Homo sapiens: one gene and its partners. The protein of the gene in region 3 interacts with the protein of the main gene of each other region in a biochemical or structural test. Each region holds a gene or a part of one and is shown on either strand. Other genes may lie near its edges. The genes, in order: FCN3, FYN and FN1.

The links.
Region 1: the proteins of FN1 (region 3) and FCN3 form a complex in vitro, tested with the Homo sapiens proteins (one study listed by IntAct).
Region 2: the proteins of FN1 (region 3) and FYN form a complex in vitro, tested with the Homo sapiens proteins (one study listed by IntAct).

Annotation. Positions count from the first base shown.
Region 1 is NC_000001.11:27,372,673-27,376,422, forward strand, and holds the start of FCN3 (ficolin-3 isoform 1 precursor), read right to left. Parts: upstream 2,153-3,750; 5' UTR 2,147-2,152; coding exon 2,056-2,146; intron 1,780-2,055; coding exon 1,684-1,779; intron 1,338-1,683; coding exon 1,293-1,337; intron 849-1,292; coding exon 816-848; intron 592-815; coding exon 464-591; intron 1-463. UniProt on the Homo sapiens protein: May function in innate immunity through activation of the lectin complement pathway. Calcium-dependent and GlcNAc-binding lectin. Has affinity with GalNAc, GlcNAc, D-fucose, as mono/oligosaccharide and lipopolysaccharides from S.typhimurium and S.minnesota.
Region 2 is NC_000006.12:111,866,944-111,870,593, forward strand, and holds part of FYN (tyrosine-protein kinase Fyn), read right to left. Parts: intron 1-3,650. UniProt on the Homo sapiens protein: Non-receptor tyrosine-protein kinase that plays a role in many biological processes including regulation of cell growth and survival, cell adhesion, integrin-mediated signaling, cytoskeletal remodeling, cell motility, immune response and axon guidance.
Region 3 is NC_000002.12:215,429,419-215,433,068, forward strand, and holds part of FN1 (fibronectin isoform 1 precursor), read right to left. Parts: intron 2,547-3,650; coding exon 2,415-2,546; intron 1,435-2,414; coding exon 1,297-1,434; intron 1-1,296. UniProt on the Homo sapiens protein: Fibronectins bind cell surfaces and various compounds including collagen, fibrin, heparin, DNA, and actin. Fibronectins are involved in cell adhesion, cell motility, opsonization, wound healing, and maintenance of cell shape.

The DNA of each region.
Region 1 (3,750 bases), on a different chromosome or scaffold from region 3:
CGCCTGCTCTCAGCTCACTCACGCGTTCCCTGCAAACCTTTTACTCTGCTGCCTCCCTGAGTTTATCTTTACTTCTAGCTGGAATGCCCCTCCCTACCCTATTTTTTTTTTTTTTTTTTTTTGAGACAGAGTTTCACTCTTTTCACCCAGGCTGGAGTGCAATGGCAAGAACTCGGCTCACTGCAACCTCCACCTCCTGGGTTCAGGCAATTCTCTTGCCTCAGCCTCCCAAGTAGCTGGGATTACAGGCGTGAGCTACTGCACTCAACTTAAGGTCTTTTCAAAAGGCACCTCCTCTGTGAAGCCCTCATACTTCTTCAGGTCCCATTGGGGGCTCACTAAACATTTGTCAGTGAATTCCTCTAGGAAATGCCTTGCTCTGGTGGGTTCTGGCTCCCCTAGGGGCCAAGGGGGAGAAGTGACCAGTGGGCCTGGCCTGTTAGCCCATTTCTCAGACACTCACCAGCCAGCCGCCCCCCTCGGTGTCCATGTCACAAAAGACTGGGAGGGCCCTGCCCTCAGGTAGGCACAGATGGTACCAGCCGCTCAAGGTGGCGCCCTGGCTCAACAGCTCCCGGCAGTTTCTGGGGCCTGGGAAAGGGGAGATGGACTGGGGTGGTGCCCAGGTTATTCCCTGACCCCCACCCCCAGGCACTGGAACAAGTGTGGGACCCTAGGGACCCTCTTGGCTCCTTCAGGTCCCTGAAGAAGGGTTCTGAGGAGGCTGTGGGGAGGATCTTGGCCACACTTGGGGGTCTGCCAACACCCAACACCATGTGATCCCAAGTTCCTGGCTCCTGCAAGGGCTGCCTCACCTTCCTGGCACCGGAGCAGGTTCACTGGATCTCCTGCCCCAGAGAAGGGATGAGTGTTGGCTCTGATGTCTCAGCACCCCAGCGCTGAGCCACCAGTGGAGCCGGTACCCAGGCCCTTTTCCGAATCCTTCCCACTCCTCCCAGCCTTCCATACCCTGTAGGAGGGCCATCATAGGGTACCCAGGCCCTTCTCCTAATCCTCTCCACTCCTCCCAGCCTTCCAAACCCTGTAGGAGGGCCTTCATAGGGTACCCAGGCCCTTCTCCTAATCCTCCCCACTCCTCCCAGCCCTCCATCCCCAATAGGAGGGCCATCATAGGGTAGCCAGGCCCTTCTCCTAATCCTTCCCACTCCTCCCAGCCATCCATTCCCCTGTGAGAGAGCCATCATAGGCACAGCAGCCAAGCAGAGATCCCACCCTAGAGTCCAGGGACAGAGGCAAAGAAAGCGGGGAGGCCTCCAGCCCCACTTACTCACCTGGCTCACCCTTGGGGCCCATCTTGCCTGGTGGTCCAGGTGGCCCTGAAATCACAAAGGCAGAGATTTCCTGAGTCCCACCCCATGCCCAGGACCAAAAAGAAACAAGAGACTTGGAGCCAGAGGTTCAAATCCCAGTTTCACCCTTCACTCACTTTGTGATTGCGGGCAAATATCTTATCCTCTCTGAACCTCCCTTTCCTCCTCAGCAGAATGGGGATGAAACCACTTACCTGGCAGAGTTGATCTTAGGATGCCGGGTGCCCAGCCTGGAGCTGGCACAGAGTAGGTTCCTTGCTCCTTTGTCGTGGCCCCTCAGCACAGACAAAAATTGCTACTTTCCTGCCTTCCCCATTCCCAAGATCCCAGCCCGCTCCCCAGCCCCTCTCACCTTGAGGACCTGGGGCTCCCTTCTCCCCAGGACTTCCTGGAGCTCCGGGACAACTGGGCAGGAGGACAACTTTGCTGGCTTCCAGTTCCCTGGGTCCTACAGGGAGACACAGGCAGGGTGGGCACAGGGTAGACTGTCTCTTCCAGACCCCTCTTCAGTTCTCTTCCTGTCTCCCAGATTCCCACTGTCAGGATGCTTGTCTCCTGAGCTGGCAAGGTTTCGTGTGCTTTGCATCCATTTGCATATATTTACATGCAGAGCCCAGATTATGAAACTCCCACCCTGCTCCTTGAGGTTGATGAGCCTTGGTGGGGGGACACCCAGCGAGGGAATGAGGAGTGGGTTGGTGAGGAGGGCACCCTAGGTGCCCACCTGGGCAGCTGGGGTGTTCCTGGGTCTTCAGGCAGGCAGGCCCCCCAAGCAGGAGAAGCCACAGGGAGGGCAGGATCCACAGTAGATCCATCTTGCTGGGCCCACCAGGGGAAGGATGCCAGATTATAAGGGGGCCAGGCTGGTGGGAGGACATGAAACAAGACTTCCTCCCATTGTCCCCCAGGGACACCCCACCCAGACTGGAGCCAGCAGGGGGTGGGAGTATTTCCTCCTTCAGCCCCAGAGAGAAAGGGCATTATCCCTGCCCTATCCAACCAGGATGGAGTCCAACATCTTTTTGTTTTTTGTTTTTTGTTTTTTTGTTTTTTTGAGACGGAGTTTCACTCTTGTTGCCCAGGCTGGAATGCAATGGCGTGCTCTCAGCTCAATGCAACCAATGCAACCTCTGCCTCCCGGGTTCAAGTGATTCTCCTGCCTCAGCCTCCCAAGTAGCTGGGATTATGGGTGCACGCCACCAAGCCCAGCTAATTTTTTGTATTTTTTTTTTTAGTATAGAAGGGGTTTCACCATGTTGGCCAGGCTGGTCTCGAAATCCTGACCTTAGGTGATCCACCCACCTCGGCCTCCCAAAGTGCTAGGATTACAGGTGTGAGCCACCGCACACTGAAAGAGTCCAACTTCTGATCCTGGCTTCCAGGGCTCCCCAGCCATCTCTCCAGACCTCTACATTCACAGTCGTCTCTACCTGTGAAGCCCCATCTGTCCATGAAGGTCTAGCTCTACAGCCATCTCCACTGGGAATCCTTCCCTGATCCTTGTCAATGCTATGAATAGTGACAACTGCTACCATTTCCTGGGCATCTACTGCATTCCAGCGTCATACTGACGTCACCTCCGATCCTCACATGGACTTGCTATTAATCCTTATTATTGCATTATGGGCCTGGTACAAAATGGGTGCTCAGTAAGAAAGAGTTAAATGAATAAGGAAAGAGAAACTGAGGCCCAGTGATGGGACGTGACTTCTGTTCTCTTGGCCACTTATATGCTGAGAGCAACAGAGTTTTACCCAAGCCCCATGCCCCCGCCAGGGAAAAGCACCATTAAGAAAGTGATTCTGGCTGGCTGCGGTGGCTCATGCCTGTAATCCCGGGATTTTGGGAGTCCGAGGCAGGCAGATCACCTGAGGTCAGGGGTTCGAGACCAGCCTGGCTAACACGGTGAAACCCTGTCTCTACTAAAAATACAAAAATTAGCCGGGCTTGGTGGCATGCACCTGTAATCCCAGCTACTCAGGAGGCTGAGGCAAGAGAATCACTTGAAACCCGAAGGCAGAGGTTGCAATGAGCCGAGATCGCACCACTGCACTCCAGCCTGGGCGAAAGAGCAAAAACTCCGTCTCAAAAAAAAAGAAAGTGACTCCATGCTCAACCTTGAGTCCCGTGAGGCTTAGGAAACAGCTGCTAATGTACGCCAATTGAGCGGGAAGCCCATGTAGGAAGGCCTGGAGGCCGGGAAGCCAGGGAGGACGCAGCAGCCAGGGTCCAGATGTGAAGGATCAGGCCTGAGCTGGAGAGGGACCTCAGGTGATAAGGGAGGAGAGGCAGGGCTCATTCATTCACTCATTCAGGAAACCCTCCCTCAAGGCCTCCTCTGCACCTCCCTGGTGCTTATGGAGAGGGCTGAGGTGCAAGTGGTATCAGGGGAAGTGGAGGCAGTGTTTGCCTGACAGGA
Region 2 (3,650 bases), on a different chromosome or scaffold from region 3:
AGATATCTTCAGTGCTAAATCCAACTGCATTTTTTGTTCTTTATGTTGCTCAACTCTGAAGCTGGTCTAGTACTCCGCAGGCTCCTCTCCCATTCTGGGCCTGACTCCTCCTCTGTTCCTGGGCTTGCTCTCTGCCCTTTCTGCTCTTTCTACTCCACACATTCTCCCTGGGTGACCTCACCCACATCCATGGCTTCAATTTTTGTAATTTGTTTGCTAACGAATTTATATTCAAGACCTAGTCCTGGCTGGGAGCAGTGGCTCATGCCTATTATCTCAGCACTTTGGGAAGCTGAGGTAGGTAGATCCCCTGCAATCAGAAGTTCGAGACCAGCCTGGCCAACGTGGCGAAACCCCAATAATTAGCCGGGTGTGGCGTTGGGTGCCTGTAATCCCAGCTACTCGGGAGGCTGAGGCAGGAGAATCGCTTGAACCTGGGAGGTGGAGGTTGCAGTGAGCTGAGATCACGCCATTGCACTCTAGCCTGGGCAACAAGAGCGAAACTCCGTCTCGGGAAAAAAAAAAAAAAAAAAAAAAAAGACCTAGTCCTCTTCCCTCACTCCAGACCTCTCTATTTACCTGCCTATGAGCTACTACACCTGGAAGTCTAAAGTGTTTAAGATAAAGTCATCGCTTAGATACCTGCCCCCTGCTTTCCTTATTGGACTGCTTGTCTCTACCTAATTTCCCAGAGAAATTCTTTTCTACCTACCCCTACACCCTGTCTACTGCTCTCTAATTCTTTTTTGCTCCATCTGCACCTCCTTTCCTTCCATTTAGACCCTCATCTACTACTCATTTAAGTTTCCATAACTACCTTCCCTGCATTAGTTCTGCCTGCCCTCGGTCAAAGGCCCATACTGTGGCCAGATCTTTATAAAAATACAATCACATCAAAGCCACATCTCCACTTACAACTCTTAAATGGCACTCAGGATAAAGTACGTACAAGAATCTTTCTCAGTTTCTCCTTCAGCTCTGTCATTTCCCTTTGTCCATCTCTGTACCACTCCAAACAGCCCTGAACTAACTGCAGTTCCCCAAAAGGTCTGTGCATTCGCCCTCTGGGCTGTTCTTTCTGGGACAGGGAGCTTCCCACAACACTCACCTAGCCATCTCTACTCATCTTGCCTTCAGACCCCTCCTCTTCCAGCCTTCTCTGCTTGGCTATCCCACTTGCCCACCTCTTTTCCAGGTTCATGCTCCATTCTGCACACTCTCTGCCATCCTACATGGACCCCTAAAATCCCAGCATTTCTAACATTGGTCAGAGACTCCTTTATAGCTCTGCAAAACTAGCAAGTAAGTTCCTTCGGGACAGGATCACATCTCTTTTGCCTTGAACCATCGAATTAATTGTCTGGCAAATAGAATACGCAATGAATGAATGCTGTTAAATGAGTAAGTATGTAGACAATTCATAAACTTATACAGACCTAATTGTGTACCACAGAAAGACCCAGCTTTAAATAATCACACAGAGTAAAATTATTTCCAGTATCGACATGCCTTGCTTTACCATTGTTTAATTTAATTTTGTATTTCCCAGGTAAGTAGTAGATAAGTGTCTGAATGGAAGGAGGGTAGGGATGAATATTGTATTTCTATTTGGCTATAAAATTATATTTCTCATCAACCAAAAGTCTTAGTTTCTAAAGCATTTCAGTCACCCTCCCTTATGGCACATAACGTATTTTAATATCATCATTATATGTAGTATTTTGAATATTACCTAGTGGCTAAGGGCAAAGGCTTTGGAACCAAACTAATTGGACCTGAATCCTGACTCTACCACTTAGTAGCTGTATGATCTTGAATTAGTTACTTAACAAGCTACTAAAGTTTGCTTCAATTTCCCATCTGTAAAACGGAGATTATAAGTGAAACCACTTCATATTATTATTGTTAAGATCGGAGCTTAAACAGTGCTTGGCATATAGTAAATGCTCAACAAATGTTAACAATTATTAATTATTTTTATCTCTTCTAGTAGACCGTGAACTTCTGAAAAGCAAGGACAGCAGAAGTATTCATTTCCAGGACCTCATCTCCCCAGTGCCTTGCACAAAGTAACATACTAGGCTAATGTCTGCAGAACAGATGAATATAATGAAGTATTCATGGCAAAAAAAAGTGCATTAACAATTATGATGGCTGGTATGAATGGAATTGCTCCAACAATTTGGAAGCCTGTGGAGAACAGGGACTACCCAGAACACTAGAACCCTGCTCATGGAGATTTGGAAGCTCACTTAACCTCCGTGGAATATGCAAGACTCACAGACAAAGAGGGCAGCTGAGTGACAGAGGAGACCCATGTGGGCCTGAAGAGCTGGCTGGCTGAGCCTCCTGCCCTTCCGTTAAGAAGCTGCAAGGCCTTGGGGCAAGGAGTTTCACCTCTCAGGCTAATTAATTTCCTCTTCCAATTAAGAGGGAGTGGGACTGTGATTTCTGTTTTTCTTTTTGAGATAGGGTCTCACTCTGGAGCCCAGGCTAGAGTACAGTGGTATGACCTCAGCTCACTGCAGTCTCTACCTCCCAGGCTCAAGTGATCCTCCCACCTCAGCCTCTTGAGTAGCTGGGACCACAGATGCATGCTACCATGCCTGGATAGTTTTTAAAAGATTTTTCGTGGAGACGAGGTCTCACTATGTTGCCCAGGCTGATAACAAACTCTTGGGCTAAAGTGATCCACCCACCTCAGCCTCCCAAAGTGCTGGGATTACAGGCGTGAGCTGCAACATCCAGAAGGAGTGTGATTTCTAAGGACTCTCCTAGCAACTTTGGGAGTCTACAGAATGACCAGATGAAAAATGAAGCCAAGAAAGGTGCTTTTGGAGTAAAAGAACCACATCAAAGTCAACACAGGAAGCATCAGATGATTGTATCACATGGGATTATTGAGTAGGAATTGGCAACATTTGAAACATAAAATTTGAAACATGACAAAAAGTAAGATTTTTGAAACATGCTTAGGATGAAAAGATCTAAACTTATAAAATCAAAAGAAAAGCAATGACGGGTGTCCGCTCTAGGTTTCTATTTAATTCCCATTAGCCTATAAGTTTCTTGAGGGCAGTGAATGTGCCTTGATAAGTGGCAGTGTTTGACAAAGCTGTTCAATAAAAATACATTTATTCTGTATCTTTTTTCTGAGCACATGGCTAAACTACATTTCCCAGGCTCCCTTGCAATTAAATGTGGCCATATAACTAGCCCTCAAGTAAAGAATGTGAGAGGAAGTGATGGTGGCACTTCCAGGCTAAGGTATTTTAAAAGTGGGTGTGCCCCGTCTACTCTCTGTTGCCCCTTCTGTAAACTGAAACAGGTTACGATGATAAGCTATGGGATGGTGGAGCTACAAGATAGGGGTGTGGGACCCAGAGTCACTGCATGGAGGAAAGCCACCTACCGACCAGAAACATGAATTTTTGACTATTAAATGAGCAAGAATAAACGTCTATTGCTTTTGAGCCATTATATATTTGCAGGCCTATTTGTTACACCTGCTAACATTAGCCTAATTGATACAGGTGTTGAGCACATACCAAAGACCTAACTCACATTTGTTTAATGTTAAATGAAACAGAATACCCGCTAAGATAAAACTTGGTAGGAAACAAGATAAGTAAGATAAGGTTCCTTTTATC
Region 3 (3,650 bases):
TATAGAGGATCTGATGTCTTTGTGAATTGGATATTGTTGCAACTCCTGGGTTAGAGAAAAAAAATTAATAGTTGATGTAGGTTCAAACAAATACACACCCACATCCATCTACCACAAGAATAGAAGTTTGCATGAAGGTATAATTACTGATTAGAGCTTTTTCCCAAATCCCCAGCGAAAAGTATTATCATCCCCTGAACCTCCATAGCACTACTTTCAGTATTTCTGTTGAAATCTTTAATACTGTGTTTTGCAGATGATAAATATGTATAAGACTTTCTCATCTCCCTGACCCCCTAAGTACTCTTTGAAGGCTGGGCTAATGTTCATTTCATATCTGCACCCCTATAATACCTTGAACAAAGTAAGTCCTTATAAAATTTTCTGGAATAAATGACTTCTCTTTGAGAAACTTTTCCCAACTTGCTATTTAAAGAGTTCTAAATAACAGATAAGGTTTGAATCAGACATCTAATTTGTCTTAAGCTAAAATATTGCCACAAAGATCTTGGAAGTCTGATGATCACAGTAACATTTTAAATGCAAAATATCTAATAAACCAGCAAGTTTCTGGGAAAGCTTTGGTCAAAATGGTTACCACTTTTCATGAGAGACCTATTTTTGTTAGCAAAGAATTTGAATTTGGATGATGGCTATGTTAAAGGTAGTTAAATGGGTTCAGCTAGATAAATAAAACAGGTTCAAATTATTTGGATTTGATTTTAAACTTATTTACAACACCAGTAGTTAATGGCTGTTTTACTTCAACAAACTCTCTAGCTGTTATTAGTTTACAATATCAAAAAAGGAGCCTTCAAACCCAAAGGCAACAATTAAGACCCCAAGACAATCTTAGAAGGAGCAGTAAAGACACCAGAGGCCAGCTTCTTTACAGCACTAATCAAATGCGTTAGGTCAGAGACACTATCCCTAACTCCAGAGTAGATAAATCATTTTAATTTATGGGATAAATTCTTTTTAATTTTATCAATTTAGCCTGTGAATGTGCCCTATTTAAATTTCAAACATAGAAGGAAACCTAAACCTTTTGTTCAACTCTATGTCAGTGGCAGTGAGCTGAGATTGAACCTTATCAAAGTGATATGTTTTTCTATTTATGTAGTCTTCTCTGAAGATGCGGAATAAGTTGGTTATGAAAGTTTTCTTGACTTCCAGAAGTTACCAAAGCATGCTGATATACTGGATGTGTTCTGAGTAACATAGTATTACCCTTCTCTCTAGGAATCCAGAAAACAATACCTGGCTTAATCTTTAACATAAAGATGTAAAACATACTTCTAGAAGTGCAAGTGATGCGTCCGCTGCCTTCTCCCAGGCAAGTACAATCTACCATCATCCAGCCTTGGTAGGGCTTCTCCCACGTTTCTCCGACCACATAGGAAGTCCCAGCAGCATGATCAAAACACTTCTCAGCTGTAGGGAAATTTGGAAGAAAAACAGGAAAAAAAGGTTATTTTGAATTGTGCAAGCTCCCTGTAATTTAAAGTGTAGTGTGTAAGCAAAAATTCAGCCACATTTTTTTTAAGTGGCACTCTGTTCAGAAAGAATGACACACCCAGCATCTAAGCACACAGTAAGTAGCCAAGGCAAAAGAAAGCTCAAGCTGAGTTGGCAGGCAGAAATTCCATTCTCCTAATAAGTACATGGACTACATATTTTCAGCGAGCCCCAAACTTCCCAGCAGCATTTCCAGTAGCAAGGATCTATGTATGTATCTAGTCTGTGGGAGACTACATATGCAAAATTCCAATCTTAATTATAAATGACCAATTATGAATTTTGAGTGGCCTAAATACAATGACAAAGAAAGCTATTTTTAAATATTGGAAAGCAAAACAATACAAAACAAGACAAAAACCTCTAAATTAGAAGACAAGTAAACAGAGTAAAATTTATAGCCAGAAACTTTCAGGCTTGTACTTACAAAATTCAACTGAGGATTGAGATCCAAAGAAGCTCAACAACTTTTAATTTGAAAAGAAATGAGCAGAGTGTGACAAGCACACACTATTTCATGTTTCGGTCCAGGACATTCCATATAGAAATGTGTCCAAAGTGTCATTTTTTTTTCTTTTAAATAAATTATATCTTGACGAAGGAGGAATCTGAGATCAGCTATTAGGTAAAAGAAATGACTCCATTCTAAATCTTTCAATTCTACCTTATGCTTTTGAAGCAAAGTTAAGACTTCTATGTGTAGTCAGTACTTTTTGATCTAACTCCTGTAAGAAGACTATGGATTATATAATAATTCATTATTTCAAACAAAATTCCCATTTCTTTATTGGTTTTCACTGGAATTCAGGTCTATGACCTATGTAGATGTGATTCTGGTCCAACCCCACATTAGAACTAAGCATCCCAGCTCTTGCTCAGCCCTAAGACTCACACACCTATGGGCTTGCAGGTCCATTCTCCTTTTCCATTACCAAGACACACACACTCTAACATGTAACCACCAGTCTCATGTGGTCTCCTCCAGGTGTCACCAATCTTGTAGGACTGACCCCCTTCATGGCAGCGGTCTGTTGAAGATACAACGAAAATGTTAGGAGAGGGCAGAACAGATTTTTTTTTTTGGTCTCATATTCCACCCATGGTAGGTACTTAGGTTGGCTAAAGTAGAGACACAGACAACAGCTTTCCCATCAGAGACAGGGGAAACGTTAACAGGTCTGGTCACTTGGAGTCAATTCAGTTAAGTGTCTTGCTTAGAACACAATGGAAAACCACAGAGAAATCTGGATGGCAAGGAAGAGGTCATGAATCCTGCTTTCCCAGAGAGATCACAGGAAATTGGGTCCTAAGCAGAAAAGAAAGGCTGGGAGGCTTGGTCTTCACTCATACACAGCAGGCTAAGACTGAGACTAATTCAGTGAAAAGGCCACATCAGGCACAGCACTCCAGCTTTTGGGAGCATGGAGAGCCTGTATTTTACCCTAGGATAGAAATGTCATTTTGGTGGAAAGCAAACAGACATATGCATATAAAGTGTGGAAATCCTGGTAGTTTTCTAAGTTGTTAAGCCCAATGGCACATTCAAATGCTGAACTAGATTGTAAACACTATGGACCCTTGCCTCTTGCGATTTGCCTGTGAACTTGGATAAACCCTAACATGAAATATGGGGAAAGTTGATTGGGCCTATTCACACGGGACTTGTTCTTTTGAATAGAAGTCTTTAAGACGACTTATATTTAAAGAATGGATTAAAAAACTTAAATACTATCTTAATAGAATCTATTGGTAACCCAGTGAATCATACTGGAAAGAGTGCCTTAGCTAAACTAGAGTTGAGAATCAGCCCGGTTCCCAAAGTTCCTTAGCAAACTCTATTGGGTTAATAATTTTGTATTATCCCTAGGAATAGTGACATCTGCTTCCTGGGTATAACCTACTGGTCACCAAGAAACCAGACTGTTTCTGTGAGGTGCAAGAGGTCTCTGCATTGCAAACATGAAGACCAGACAACACATGGCTGGTTCACTCTTCATGAACACCTTCCCAGTCACTGCAGAAAAGTCTCATGATTTGTCTAGCTTGAAGATATCCAGGTGATTTAAAATGGGCAACTCCCCTAAGCATGTCTTACTGAAATGGAACCCAAGAGGTCTCTTGGTTCTACTATG